Linked DNA regions of Homo sapiens: all the other regions are reported to be linked to region 1. The links are microRNA targets in miRTarBase. Many come from high-throughput screens and were not tested one by one. Region 1 holds a microRNA gene; each other region holds the end of a gene's coding sequence.

What was found. The annotated mature microRNA hsa-miR-6893-5p reads CAGGCAGGUGUAGGGUGGAGC and lies in region 1 at 1,218-1,238, opposite strand. An mRNA with a match to its seed (bases 2 to 7 or 8) in the 3' UTR can be bound and repressed. Matches are read on the target gene's strand: a 7mer-m8 pairs with bases 2 to 8, a 7mer-A1 pairs with bases 2 to 7 and ends in A, and an 8mer does both.
Region 2: miRTarBase lists PSMC4 as a target of hsa-miR-6893-5p. The part of its 3' UTR that is shown has no 7-base or 8-base seed match.
Region 3: miRTarBase lists ZNF747 as a target of hsa-miR-6893-5p. Seed matches in the 3' UTR shown: 7mer-m8 at 947-953 and 7mer-m8 at 2,135-2,141.
Region 4: the mRNA of FAM131B is a reported target of hsa-miR-6893-5p. Seed matches in the 3' UTR shown: 7mer-m8 at 2,728-2,734 and 7mer-m8 at 1,576-1,582.

The regions. Positions count from the first base shown.
Region 1 is chr8:144,434,377-144,437,524 of GRCh38, forward strand. MIR6893 (microRNA 6893) reads right to left here and starts at 1,243; the gene lies at 1,175-1,243. TONSL (tonsoku like, DNA repair protein) reads right to left here. Exons shown (of 26, transcript NM_013432.5): 14 at 2,651-2,723; 15 at 2,381-2,544; 16 at 2,182-2,305; 17 at 1,282-2,042; 18 at 1,098-1,174; 19 at 641-794; 20 at 435-513. TONSL-AS1 (TONSL antisense RNA 1) reads left to right here and starts at 792. Exons shown (of 6, transcript NR_109770.1): 1 at 792-1,064; 2 at 2,375-2,619.
Region 2 is chr19:39,980,786-39,983,785 of GRCh38, reverse strand. PSMC4 (proteasome 26S subunit, ATPase 4) reads right to left here. Exons shown (of 11, transcript NM_006503.4): 11 at 2,022-2,594. The coding sequence ends at 2,481. Among named protein-coding and RNA genes, the nearest start is that of PSMC4, 11 kb to the right of the region's middle.
Region 3 is chr16:30,530,003-30,533,002 of GRCh38, reverse strand. It overlaps ZNF747 (zinc finger protein 747), which reads left to right. Exons shown (of 3, transcript NM_001305018.2): 3 at 1-2,636. The coding sequence ends at 504. It also overlaps a transcript of ZNF768 not described here. Among named protein-coding and RNA genes, the nearest start is that of ZNF747, 3.4 kb to the left of the region's middle.
Region 4 is chr7:143,353,800-143,356,799 of GRCh38, forward strand. It overlaps FAM131B (family with sequence similarity 131 member B), which reads right to left. Exons shown (of 7, transcript NM_001031690.3): 7 at 1-3,000. The coding sequence ends at 2,751. Among named protein-coding and RNA genes, the nearest start is that of FAM131B-AS1, 6.4 kb to the right of the region's middle.

The DNA.
Region 1 (3,148 bases):
GGGTCACCCACCAGACTTGCTGTAGAGCCCACTCGCACATGCCTGTGGGTCTAGCACTGTGAGGCCCTGGGGGCCGGGGTGGGTCTGCAGCACCCTGAGCTCCACCAGTCACTGCCAGATTCCACACCCCCCGGGACAAGCTTTCTGGGAAGCTTCCCCAGCAGCTCCCAGCCCATGCCAGGCCCTCCTCCTTGGGTTTGACTTTCCAGGCTTTCGGCTGCTTTTTGCCATCTCCCTGTCAGCAGATCATGGGGGCTGAGGGCTGTCCTCTCCCTTCCACCCACACATCCAAGTGCAGGACACAGCACCCACCAGGCTGGGGGAGGTGCACCCCAAAACACCCGAGGCCCAGGAATGAACCGGGCTGGTGGAGCCTGTGTGCCCAACCCCCTTGTACGACCTCACCCAGAAACTGCAGCTCTCCTGGCCCTCACCTTGCCCCAGGCTCTGGCAGGCCCTGCGGTAGCGGTCAGTCAACGGGGGCAGGTCCCACGAAGTCACCTCAGCCAACACCTGGAAGGCACCGTCATGAGCCACCTGGGGGCTCCCCCGGCTCACCTCATCATTGCTCTGCAGCCATGAGCCACCCGGGGGCTCCCGGTGCCTGAGGCCCTGGCTCCCCCTCCGCTCTGCGGCTCACCTCGTCATTGCTCTGCAGCACATCAGGGATGAGGTCCTGTGGGGCCAGCAGGGCCCCCTCTTTCCGTAGGGTGAGCCTGGGCAGCAGCCCGCAGGTCTGGTAGTAGCGCTGGGCCGCCTGCTCGGCCAGCCAGGCCACAGAGTGGGTGTCACTGCTGCAGGGACAGAGGCGCTGCTGCTGCTGCCTGCACACAGCCGGGGTAATGCCCCAGGGACCCGCCATCCCTGCCCAGGGCCAGAAGCCCCCTCAGCTGCTTCTCCCATTCCCAGGTAGCCGGCCCCTCCTCTCCCTGCAGCCCAGCACACCACCAGCCCCTCTGCTATTCCTGGGGGCCACAGGATCCTCCTGGAACACACCAGGGAGCCCTCGTCACACGCCCCACCCTGACATGCAAACACGAGCACCCTGGCATGGAGCTGCACAGGTGGGCTGCGGGGTAGGGCAGGCGATGCCTCACCTGTGTGGGACAGGGATGAGGAAGAGATGATCCTGAACTTGAACTCGAACCCGGATGGGAGGGGGCGGGGCCGGACCCTGGCAGGTGAAGGCAGCAGGGCTGAGTCAGGAGCCACAGTGGGCTCCACCCTACACCTGCCTGCCCGGAGTGGGGAGAGGGCTCTGCTCCAGGTCTGCATACCCACCAAGGGCTGGCCTGCCGCAGAGCTGTCCCCACTGGGCTCTGAGACCCTGGGGGTGCTGGGGCTCCCTGGAGGTTCTGAAGCCAGGCTGCTGGGCCCTGCGTTAACTGGCGCACTGCAACTCTGCATGCAGGTCAGGCGGACCTGCTTGGCTCGGGCACGGGGCCTGCTCTCCTCACTGTCCGACCCAGAGGTACTACTGGGCCTGCGGTTGTCTCCAGTGCCCCGGGGGCGGGGCCGGCGGCTGCGGGTCAGGGGCATGTCCAGCTCCAGCCAGTCCCCGGCCAGGCACTCCTCCTCCGGGATGAGCGCTGCCTGGGGGGCAAGGGCTTTGCTGTGGCCCCGCGGTGGGCCAGGCCCCAGCCGGCTCTGAGCACTGCCCACACCCCGGATGGCTGCCTGGTAGGCTGCCCGGCTGGTGCTGGCTGTGGCTGCTTCCCTGTTGCTGGCGGGGCCAGGCGTCCAGGCTGCCACCCGTTGTGCTGTGGCCGAGCACCGAGGCCTCTTCTGGGACGGCCGTGCGGGGCCTGCGCTGTCCTCGCCTTCTGAGCTGCTGCTGCTGCTGGCTGGCCCATGCCTGCTCCTCCGAGGCCTGGCCATGGCTGGTGCCGCCTGCCCTGGGGAGACCCTGACATGGGCCTGAGAGGCCTCTGGGAGTCTAGTGCTATTAGAGGGGGGTTCTGGGCAGGGGCTCAAAGGAGGAGAGGTCTCGGGGTCAAACAGAAGGCTGCTTGGGGTGTGGAAGGCCTGGGAGCTGTGGGGATCTGTGGGAGAGAGAATGCGTGTTGAGGCAGGGGCCCGGCACCTCCCGCTCCACCTGTGATGGAGCATCTCCCGAAATCAGGGCCCGGGGACTCTCAGCGTAGGCACAGCAACCCCAGGGACAAGGGACGCCCTGCTTGCCTTGGCCCGAGGCAGCCGCCTGGAGCAGCATCTCCATGGCCCTGGCCTTCTGCCGCGTCTCCAGGTCCAGGTCCCTGCGGTACAGCTTCACCCACTGCTGCAGCGTCTCCAGCGGGCTGAGGCCCTGTGTGGCATCAGTTGAGCAGGGGCACAGCAGCCCCCATAACCTCGCCCTTGCCCTCTGCCCCACCAGGCTCACCTTTCGAGTGCGGAGGGTGACGGACGCCCCCCGTTCAAGCAGCAGCTCAGCCACCTCGAAGTGGCCACAGTTGAGGGCATCGTGGAGGGGGGTGATGCCTTCGCAGCCCTGGCCACCTGGGTCGTCCACTGCGGCCCCGTGGTCCAGCAGGAAGCGGACAATTTCTGCAGACCAGGAGACGTAAGCCCAGCTCCCGATGCCCCGCCAGGACTGACTCTTCGCCCCACGTGTCCACCAAGGTGCGCCAGGCTCCTTCTGTCCCTTGCTCACCTAGATGCCCGTAGTTGCAGGCCTCGTGCAGAGGTGTCCAGCCACAGTAGTCCCGAGGGTTAAGGGGGTGGCCCTGTGACCAAGGACAGGAAGGAGCCTGGCCCTGTGTACCTCACAGCCTGGCCCCAGCCCCGTGAGCTCTGCAGCCTAAGCTGAGCCCAGGGCCTCAGTCTTAGAGCCCAGAGCAAGTCCGTGGCCCTGCCCTCTCCTCCTCCGGCCTAGGTGTCACCAGTGAAGGACATGCTTCCCCCTGAGACAGGTGGACCAGCCACAGCATATCCTCCGCCTCTGTGCCTGCCCGGTCCCCTTGTGGGGAGACAGTGCACCTGGTCGCAGGGGCATGAGGCAGGCGGGGCGGGAAGGTGCCCAGATCTCAGCCCATGGGCTAGCCCCCATCCTGGCCAGGCTGACCAACTTAGCTGTAACACAGATGCATACCACACAGCAGGTACCCCATTTTTTTTTTGAGACCAGCCAGGCTGGTCTCAAGCTCCTGAC
Region 2 (3,000 bases), not on the chromosome of region 1:
CATGCCAATAACCTGAACAACCCAATTAAAAACTCTTCATCTGGTAACACAGATTTATTTTATCTACATAGAGTTGACAAGGCAACATTTAATAAAAGATCACTCATACTCCAGTGTACCACAGGATTAACTTTGTCAGAAATCAAGTGAGTATATTATTTTCTTTTTGGACTCCATATTTTGTTCCATTGATTTGTCCATTGGTAAGGCCATACCACACTACATTAGTTACAACAGCTTTACCATCAGTCTGGATATTTGGTATTGTAAGTCTTCCAGCTTTGCTTTTTTCTTCAAATATTCTCTTGGCTATTTCTGAGCCTTTCATTTACTTATATATTTCAGAATCAGTTTGTCAGTTTCCAGCAGGACAAAACTGCTGGGATTCTGATTGGCGCTGCGTTGTTTATAGATCAATTTGTGGAGAATTAATATTTTTACTCGTAATCTTCCAATACATTAACATGTTGTATCCCAACATTTATTTGTCTTCTTTGATTTCTGTCAATATTCTGTAATTTTAACTATTTATATCTCATATTTTAAATTTATTCTTGGCACTTAAGAATTTATTTGATAAATGTTATAATTTAAAATTTAATTTCCTATTTATTTATTGCTGATATATGTATTTGATTTTTTTTCAGAGACAGTGGGTCTTGCTGTGTTGCCCAGGCTGGACTTGAACTCCCGGGCTCAAGCAATTCTCCTGCCTCAGCCTCCTGAGTAGCTGGGACTGTGGATGCATGTCACCATGCCTGGCTTATATTTAATATTTTATATTGACCTTTGTTTAGCCACATTGCTAAATTCACTATTTAATTTTAATAGGTTTTGTGTAGACTTAGATTTTCCATATATGCAATCATGACATTTGTGAATAATGAAGAGTTTCATTTCTTTTCCAGTCCCACGCCTTAATTTTTTTTCTTACCTTATTGTGCTAGGTGGAACTTCAAGTACATTTATGTATGTAACTATTAATTTTATTGAGGTATCAATAAAACTACAATAAATTAGGTACAATTTGATAAGTTTTGACATACACACTTGAAAAACCATTACCACAGTAAAAACAAACAAGCAAAAAAACTAAACATGTCTATCACCTCCTACTTTTTTCTCTATAATCCGTCTCACCTGCCCCAAGCCCCATATACCATTGGTATGCTTTGTTACTTAGATTAGTTTGGATTTTCTAAAACTTTATGTAAATAGAATAATACATTATGTATTATTTGTTGTCTGGATTCTGTCACTCAGCATAATTATTTTGAATTTCACGTTTTTGCATACATCAGTAGTTCATTTTCATATTACTGAGTGGTGTTATATTGCATACAAATATTACAATTTGTTTATCCATTCACTTGCTGATGGATATTTGGGTTGTTTCCAGTTTTAGCTATTTCAAATAAAAATAATGAGAACATTTATTTACAAGTCTTCATATGGATGTATGCCTTATTTTTTCTTAAGTAAATACCTAGAAGTGGCTAAATCATCTGATAGGTGTATTTTTAGCATAAGAAATTGTCAAACTGTTTTCCGAAGTGGCTTACCATTTCACATTCCCACCAGCAGTGTGTAAGAGTTCCATTTCTTGACCAGGCACAGTGGCTCACGCCTGTAATCCCAACAACTTAGGGAGGCCAAGGCAGGCAGATCATTTGAGGTCAGGAGTTCGAGACCAGCCTAGCCAATATAGTGAAACCCTGTCTCTACTAGAAATACAAAATTTAGCCGGGTGTGGTGGCAGATGCCTGTGGTCCCAGCTACTCGGGAGGCTGAGGCAGGAGAATCACTTGAACCTGGGAGGCAGAGGCTGCAGTGAGCCAAGATCTCACCACTGCACTCCAGCCTGGGTGACAGAGCAAGACTCCATCTCAAAAAAAAAAAAAAAAAAAAAAAAAAAAAAAGTTCAGTTTCTCAGTCATGCTAGCCATATTTCAGGTACTTATTAGCCACATGTGGCGAGCAGCTACCATACTGGAGAACACAGAACATATCCATCATTGTGCAAAGTTCTACTGGACAGCACTGGACATCTCCTTCCTATGAACTCCCAAGGCCTGTGACCTGAATTTCTTTACTGTCTTTTACCTGTAGGAAATGAGGGAGATGCACAGGGCTTTATCCCGTGATTAAGGACTCCATCTCAGGTTCATTTTCCATCCCTTTCCCCACATTTTGGAAGTCATCTGGTTTGAATATTTTGGTTCTCTCAAGCTGCAACCCAGGCCATGCACCTCGTCTGCTCATCTGTCAGATTAAGAGGGACCCAGAGGATCCTATTCAAGGCCCACATTCTCCAAAGGAGTTAAACTTCTAAGAAGAAATTAAATGGATTCGATCTTATCTATTTATTGAAGAAACCAATCCTGGGTAAAGAAAAAAGGGAATGAGGTTTTGGGACAGAGGTGCTGGGGGTGCGAGAGAAGCCCCAGCCCCTGAGTGGTGTGGTGGAGGGAAGGGAAGGGTCACTTGTAAAACTCATGCTCCTGCTCGTCCTTCTTGATGACAGTCTTGTATGCTTTCTCGAAGTCCTTGGCCAGGACAATGTAGCGGTTTTCACGGACAGCCAACATTCCACTCTGTTGAAGGATGAGAGTTAAAATCTACTTCCTGTGGCAGGGCACAGTGGCTCACACCTGTAATCCCGACACTTTGGGAGGCTGAGGTATACAGATCACTTGAGCCCAAGAGTTCGAGACCAGCCTGGGCAACATGGTGAAACCCTGTCTCTACAAAAAATACAAAAATTAGCCAGACTGGTGGTGGGCGCCTGTAATCCCAGCTACTTGGGAGGCTGAGGTGGGAGGATCACTGCAGTGAGTCATGATTGCCCCACTGCACTCCAGCCTGGGCGACAGAGTGAGTCCCTGTCTCAAAGCAAAACACAAAAACACTACCCCTGTACTATCCACCCCTAGTGATGGTAGAGGAAGAGAGAGATGGCGCCCACGACCCAGGGCAGCCATGAGGGGACAGGACTGCAGC
Region 3 (3,000 bases), not on the chromosome of region 1:
AGTCGCCCCCGCTTTTTTGCCCACCCCCCTGTCCCCCGAGCTGACCAGCGTCACGGCTGCTACGTGTGCGGGAAGAGCTTCGCCTGGCGCTCCACACTGGTGGAGCACATTTACAGCCACAGGGGCGAGAAGCCCTTCCACTGCGCAGACTGCGGCAAGGGCTTCGGCCACGCTTCCTCCCTGAGCAAACACCGGGCCATCCATCGTGGGGAGCGGCCCCACCGCTGTCCCGAGTGTGGTCGGGCCTTCATGCGCCGCACGGCGCTGACTTCTCACCTGCGCGTTCACACTGGCGAGAAGCCCTACCGCTGCCCGCAGTGTGGCCGCTGCTTCGGCCTGAAGACCGGCATGGCCAAGCACCAATGGGTCCATCGGCCCGGGGGCGAGGGGCGTAGGGGCCGGCGCCCTGGGGGGCTGTCTGTGACCCTGACTCCTGTCCGCGGGGACCTGGACCCGCCTGTGGGCTTCCAGCTGTATCCAGAGATATTCCAGGAATGTGGGTGACGGCCTAAAAAGTGACCATCTAGACATTGTGGGCGGCCCGAGATGGGCTCAGGGGCCCGAACCTCTGCAGCGGCCTGCAGGGAGGTCCCAGAATCCACCGCAAGAGCTGGCCTGGGGTGCGGACAGTCTGATCTTGGGCTCTCAGCAGCCTCTTCTGCCAGCACCTTGCTCCCCGCTGCCCTGGGCTCTCCAAGGCCCCCTTTGCTGAGGCAGGGCTGAGGTGAGAACCCCCCAGACCTCCATACAGGGAAGCAAAAGCTGTTTCTCCTCCCAGAGATGCTAAGAGGATTGAGGTAGAGAAGAACCTTGTTTTCTCTGTTGTCTTTTTCTTTTTACTTTTTTAATTTTTTGAGACGGAGTTTTGCTCTTGTTGCCCAGGCTGGAGTGCAATGGTGCGATCTCGACTCACTGCAACTTCCACCTCCTGGAGTCAAGCGATTCTCCTGCCTCAGCCACCCAAGTAGCTGGAATTACAGGCACCTGCCACTATGCCCGGCTAACTTTTTGTATTTTTAGTAGAGATGGGGTTTCACCATGTTGGCTAGGCTGGTCTCGAACTCCTGCCCTCAGGTGATCCACCCACCTCTGCCTCCCAAAGTGCTGGGATTACAGGCGTGAGCCACCTCACCTGGCCTTTTCTTTTTTATTCTTTGACCTTCCCACAAGACAATACCCATTGTCTGTTTTTTTTGTTTATTTATTTACTTATTAAGACAGCATCTTGCTCCTCACCCAGGCTGGAATGCAGTGGTGTGAACTGGGCTCACTGCAGCCTAGACCTGCTGGGCTCAAGGAATCCTCCTGCCCCAGCCTCTCAGATGGCTGTGACTACAGGTGGGCAACACTATGCCTGGCTAATTTTTAAATTTTTTTGCAGAGATGGGGTTCCCACTATGTTGATCAGGCTGGTCTCAAACTCCTCGGTTCAAGCAATTCGCCCACCTTGGCCTCCCAAAGTGCTGGGATTACAGGGGAGCCACTGCACTGGCCTTCATTGTCTTTTTGCTGCACAACCTAAAAAACCAGTGACCCTGTATTGGATCTCGCCTGCAGTTGCTGTATTGATTTGGGCCCAGGCAGTGTTTTTAAGTGATAAGAATTAGTGATGAAGATCTAAAGGGATATTTTGCACCAAAATCCAGGTTTCTGGCATCTCTTGAAAAATCCAAAGATTTCGCAAGTTCACCTAGGCTCTCAGAAAGTCGCAGTTGTTGGGAGTTGGGCCGGAGCCAGAACTCCCAACTTACTGTGGTCCGGCCACTCATCCCATCAGCTCCTGACCAAGCATGAGTAGCCATTCATCATGGCTTGCTTTTAGTGTTTTTGGTGTTTATCTTAAAGTACAGCAAAGAAGAAAGGGAAGTATTTCTTGAACCCATGTCTGTGTCAAAACAGTCCTTGCATCTTTCCTGTCTTTAGGTACGCACCATCTTTGCTGTCTTTAAGTATGTGCCATCATGGGCAGAGGGGGCTAGGCCAGGAACACCTGGTGTTAGATTTGTAGCCAGTGGCAACCGTACCCATCTGTATCCCCAAGTTCTACACGGAATCCCTCCAGCACTTCACGACTCCATTATCCAGCTACCACTAATTCCTTTGTGGGCAGAGTCCAGCCACGGGCAGCCCCTGCCCTGCCTCTGGTCAGGACAACACCTGCCCAAGGAGAGCAAGGGCCTGTGACCTCTGCTGGCCTGTGCGCCCTCACCTGTCACCCAGCTCAGCCCTGTGTCTGGCCTACCCAGGGAGGAAGGAACCAGATTTATCAGCCTGAAAGGAGGTAGAAGTTTTGGAGAAAAGACACTGTTCGGGTGTCAAGTAATGAACTGACTTTATTCGAACCTCATCTCCAATCCAATCCCACCGTGGTCTCTCTCTCCCTCAGCTTTTCTGGGGCGGGTTGACTCGTGTGTCACTTTATCACAGGGGCACATGGGGTGAGAAGAGGAACCTTGGCAGTAGGAGATACCTTTGTACCAGGTTTTAATTTCCAGTGTACATCTCAGTCCCCTCCCCTAACCCTCAACACAGCCTGGGGAAAGCCCAGCTTGCAACACCAGTTCTCAGCCCAGACTGACAGCCAGATAGATCTTGGCCCTGAGTTTGCCAATTAAAGATGCCGTGATTATTACCTAGAGGTCTCTGAGAGCTTTGAAGTTTGTAAAGTTTACTTATGGCCCAGAAACCAGGCTCCAACTCCTCTGCTTCCTGCCCTCATGACCCAACCTTCCAGCATTTCGTCAATTTTTTTTAGTGTCGTGAAACCCTTAAGCCTTAGCCCCACCCCATTCTCAGCTCCTCAGTTGGTGGCACAGATATTTCCACCTAGAGGTAGGGCCAGGCTAAGTATCTTTTAAAAATGTAGCTATTCTCGGCCGGGCGTGGTGGCTCACACCTGTAATCCCAGCATTTTGGGAGGCTGAGGCGGGCGGATCGCAAGGTCAGGAGACCGAGACCATCCTGGCTAACATGGTGAAACCCCGTCTCTACTAAGGATAC
Region 4 (3,000 bases), not on the chromosome of region 1:
ACAATGGAGGGGGAGGAGTGGAAGATTTGGATTTTCATTTAATAAAGTCAATTGAAAATGAAAGTGCACCCCCCCTCCAAAAAAAGAAAATCATTTAGCAAGAGCAGTTTCATTCACAAGAATATAAAAACAGCCCTGTTCCAGGACTGCTGTAAAACGTGCTGCACAGCCTTAACCCCAAAGGAAAAGCAACCCTTTCCCACCCCGAAACAGCCTCTTCCTGCACATGCCCCTCCCCACCCCCTGAAATAGACGATAAGCAACCCCCATGCACCCTGCCCCCAGCACCAGAAGAGTCCTAAGATGGTCCCAGGCCAGCTCCTCAGTCTCCCTCTTCAGAGCGAGTAGGAGCTCCTTGCAGAAGACAGACCCCCACCTGACTTCCATCTGCAGCAATATGCCAGCACCCTGGGGAAAGCAGGTTCATGTATGAACCCTGCTAGAGTCCTTCAGATCTTTAGTCATCTTTTGTCAGGGACCATTTGGCTTCCTTGGGAAAGGGAAGGAGGAACGAAAGCTGCTGTGGTCTACCTTTCCTAACTCCCCCGGGCCTGAGCAAAAACGAACTGTAATGAATGAACGCACTCACTAGGTGAGCTGTCCACCGTGGTCTGGGGGTATGATATGGGCACTGAGAGGATGAGACGACAGGAAGAGGTGATGTGGGAATAGCACACATTGGAGAAGGTGAGGAACCAGGGACCCCATGGAAGGAAGGTCACATGAACATGCAAAACCCCAGAGCCTGCAGCAGGAGACGGGTGGGGAATAGCTGCCAGGGCGGGCATGCTAGACCACCTCTCAGAGCTCCTGGAAATGAGGTCCTGGGACATGGAGTCAGCACACGTTAGCAAGCACAAGAGGACTCTTCCCCTGTACAGGCAGCATTCGGTTAGGTGACTGCACCTGCCTTGGTTCACCTTGCCTACGCCCATGTTTCCTCCAAAAACCAACCTCAGGATAACCATTGTCCCCCTTCCATGGAAGACACAGAACCCCCTGCCCTGCTTGCATCCCAGAAGTGTGAGTAAGAGAGTATGAACTTGATGGCGGGACAGGACCATAGATGGACAGAAACACCCCAACTCTCAACCTTCTCACTCCAAAATAATAAGTTCTGGGGCCTGGGGGTGAGGGCAAAGTTTGTGCCCAGGGCCAGGAGAGGACAACAGTGCTCCCTTCCAGCAGAGGATGCAAGTGGTAGGACTCCTGACAGAGTGTGGGTAGGACACAGGCCTGGGAGCCGGAGCCTTGGAAGGGCGTGAGGAAAGAAGGAGATAGGGCAGTGAGCCTCTTAGGCCTCTCTCTCCTACCCGAACTCTGCCTGTGCCAAGGGCTGGGGAGGGGCTACCTGGGCAGTGGCAGGGCCAAGTGCTCTCCAACCCCACAGCACCGCTGCTTTGCTCCGCCCATCCTCTGCCTGTGCTCTCACGGTAGTGCTGGGGCGCATATGCTGCTCAGTCCCCACCAGCATGGATGCCAAGTGTGGGAGGGCAAGCTTGTGCCTCACCATACACCATCCTGGAAGGAAGAATCCGCTGATTTTCCTCTCTTCCTCTGGTAGGAGGCCTGGGGAGGCAGGGAGGACAGCTGTGAGGCTGTTTGGGAGTCCTGGGAGGAGCTGAAGAAGGGGCAGAAAGTGCCGAGTGCCCACCCTGGCCCTCAGCTGCAACCCTGCCTGGCTGAGGGAGTGACAGCACCGGACTCCTCCCTCCACTCCACTCAACCCTGAGTGCCCAAGAAGTTATAAAAATGTAGAAAAGGCAAAGAGAAAAGTGTAAACAGCTTCAGAGGACAGGGGTGAATAAGGGGAGACAGCCCTCATGCTCCCCCTGCTGTTGGCGACACCTGCATCCTGCGTTGGTGTATCCAAGATGGGTGTCCCCACACCCTCCTCAGGCTCCCGGAGCAGGGATGGAAGAAAGCTGAAAGGGAAGCAAGAGCTGGAGCAGCCAGCCCTGGCTGGGTCTTTTCCCAGATCCTTAGGATCTTCCTTTTAGCCATGGGATATTAAAGATCCCAGAGCAAGGGGCTGTGTTTGTTCTTAGTCTCCTCAGTGACTCTCTTGTCTCCGGGCAGGCCTTGATAGAAAGAACCACATCCGTGCCCCCTGTAGATCTCAGCTGCCACATCCACCTCCTCCTCGACTCCTGATCTCAGAAGCCAAATGACCTGCTGAGGCAGCCTCTCCACCCTCCCCATGGACGTGCCCTTCAGGCAGCCTCCCCTGCGCCTGTCCAGCCATGTCCAACAGCCCCTGAGGTCTGTTCTCTCAGTAGGGATGAGCTGGGGCCACAGCCAGAGAAAACAGAGTTGGGAAAAGCAAGAGTGAAATGGAGAAAGGAGGCATTCAGACAGCAGAGTTACAGCTCCTGGAAGACGAAATCGGGGCGTGAAGAACTGAGATCCAGTCTTGAGCACAGCTGCGCTGCCCCCGTCCTCAGGGTGCACACACTGGAGGCTTTGTCGGCACAGACCCAGAAGCCCACAGCCCAGGTCCTTCTCCACAGCCACACCAAGCTCACGGCCATCTAGTTGCCCAGGTCTCAGTTCCCAGGCCTGTGGGTTTCTAGAGTGTAAGCCTGGATAAAATCCCATCCTGGTCCTCCATTTCCAGGAGAGGACTGGAAGCTCCTGGGTTCCCCAATGTTGTCTGCCCAGTTTCAGCTGTACTGCTGGGGGGAGGGAGGGTATGGGTCACAGCCATGGCCCTCAGGTGGGAGTGGAAGGCAGGGCATTGGGGGAGGAAACTAGTTGTTGGCCTCGCCTTCCTCCTCATCAAAGGACTGCACACCTGAGGATGTGACGTCAGACACCTTCCGGCTGAGAGCGGTAGACATCTCAGGGTCTTCTCGTGGGGAAAGTGACTCCAGGTCCCGGCATCCCGCATCCTCTTCCTCCTCAGGTGCCAATGGCCTCTTCTCCTCCTCAGCAGGGCCCCTTGCCAGGTCCACTGCGCCTACCCCCGGAGCCCAGTCAGTGTCTCCCCCCAGCAAAGGT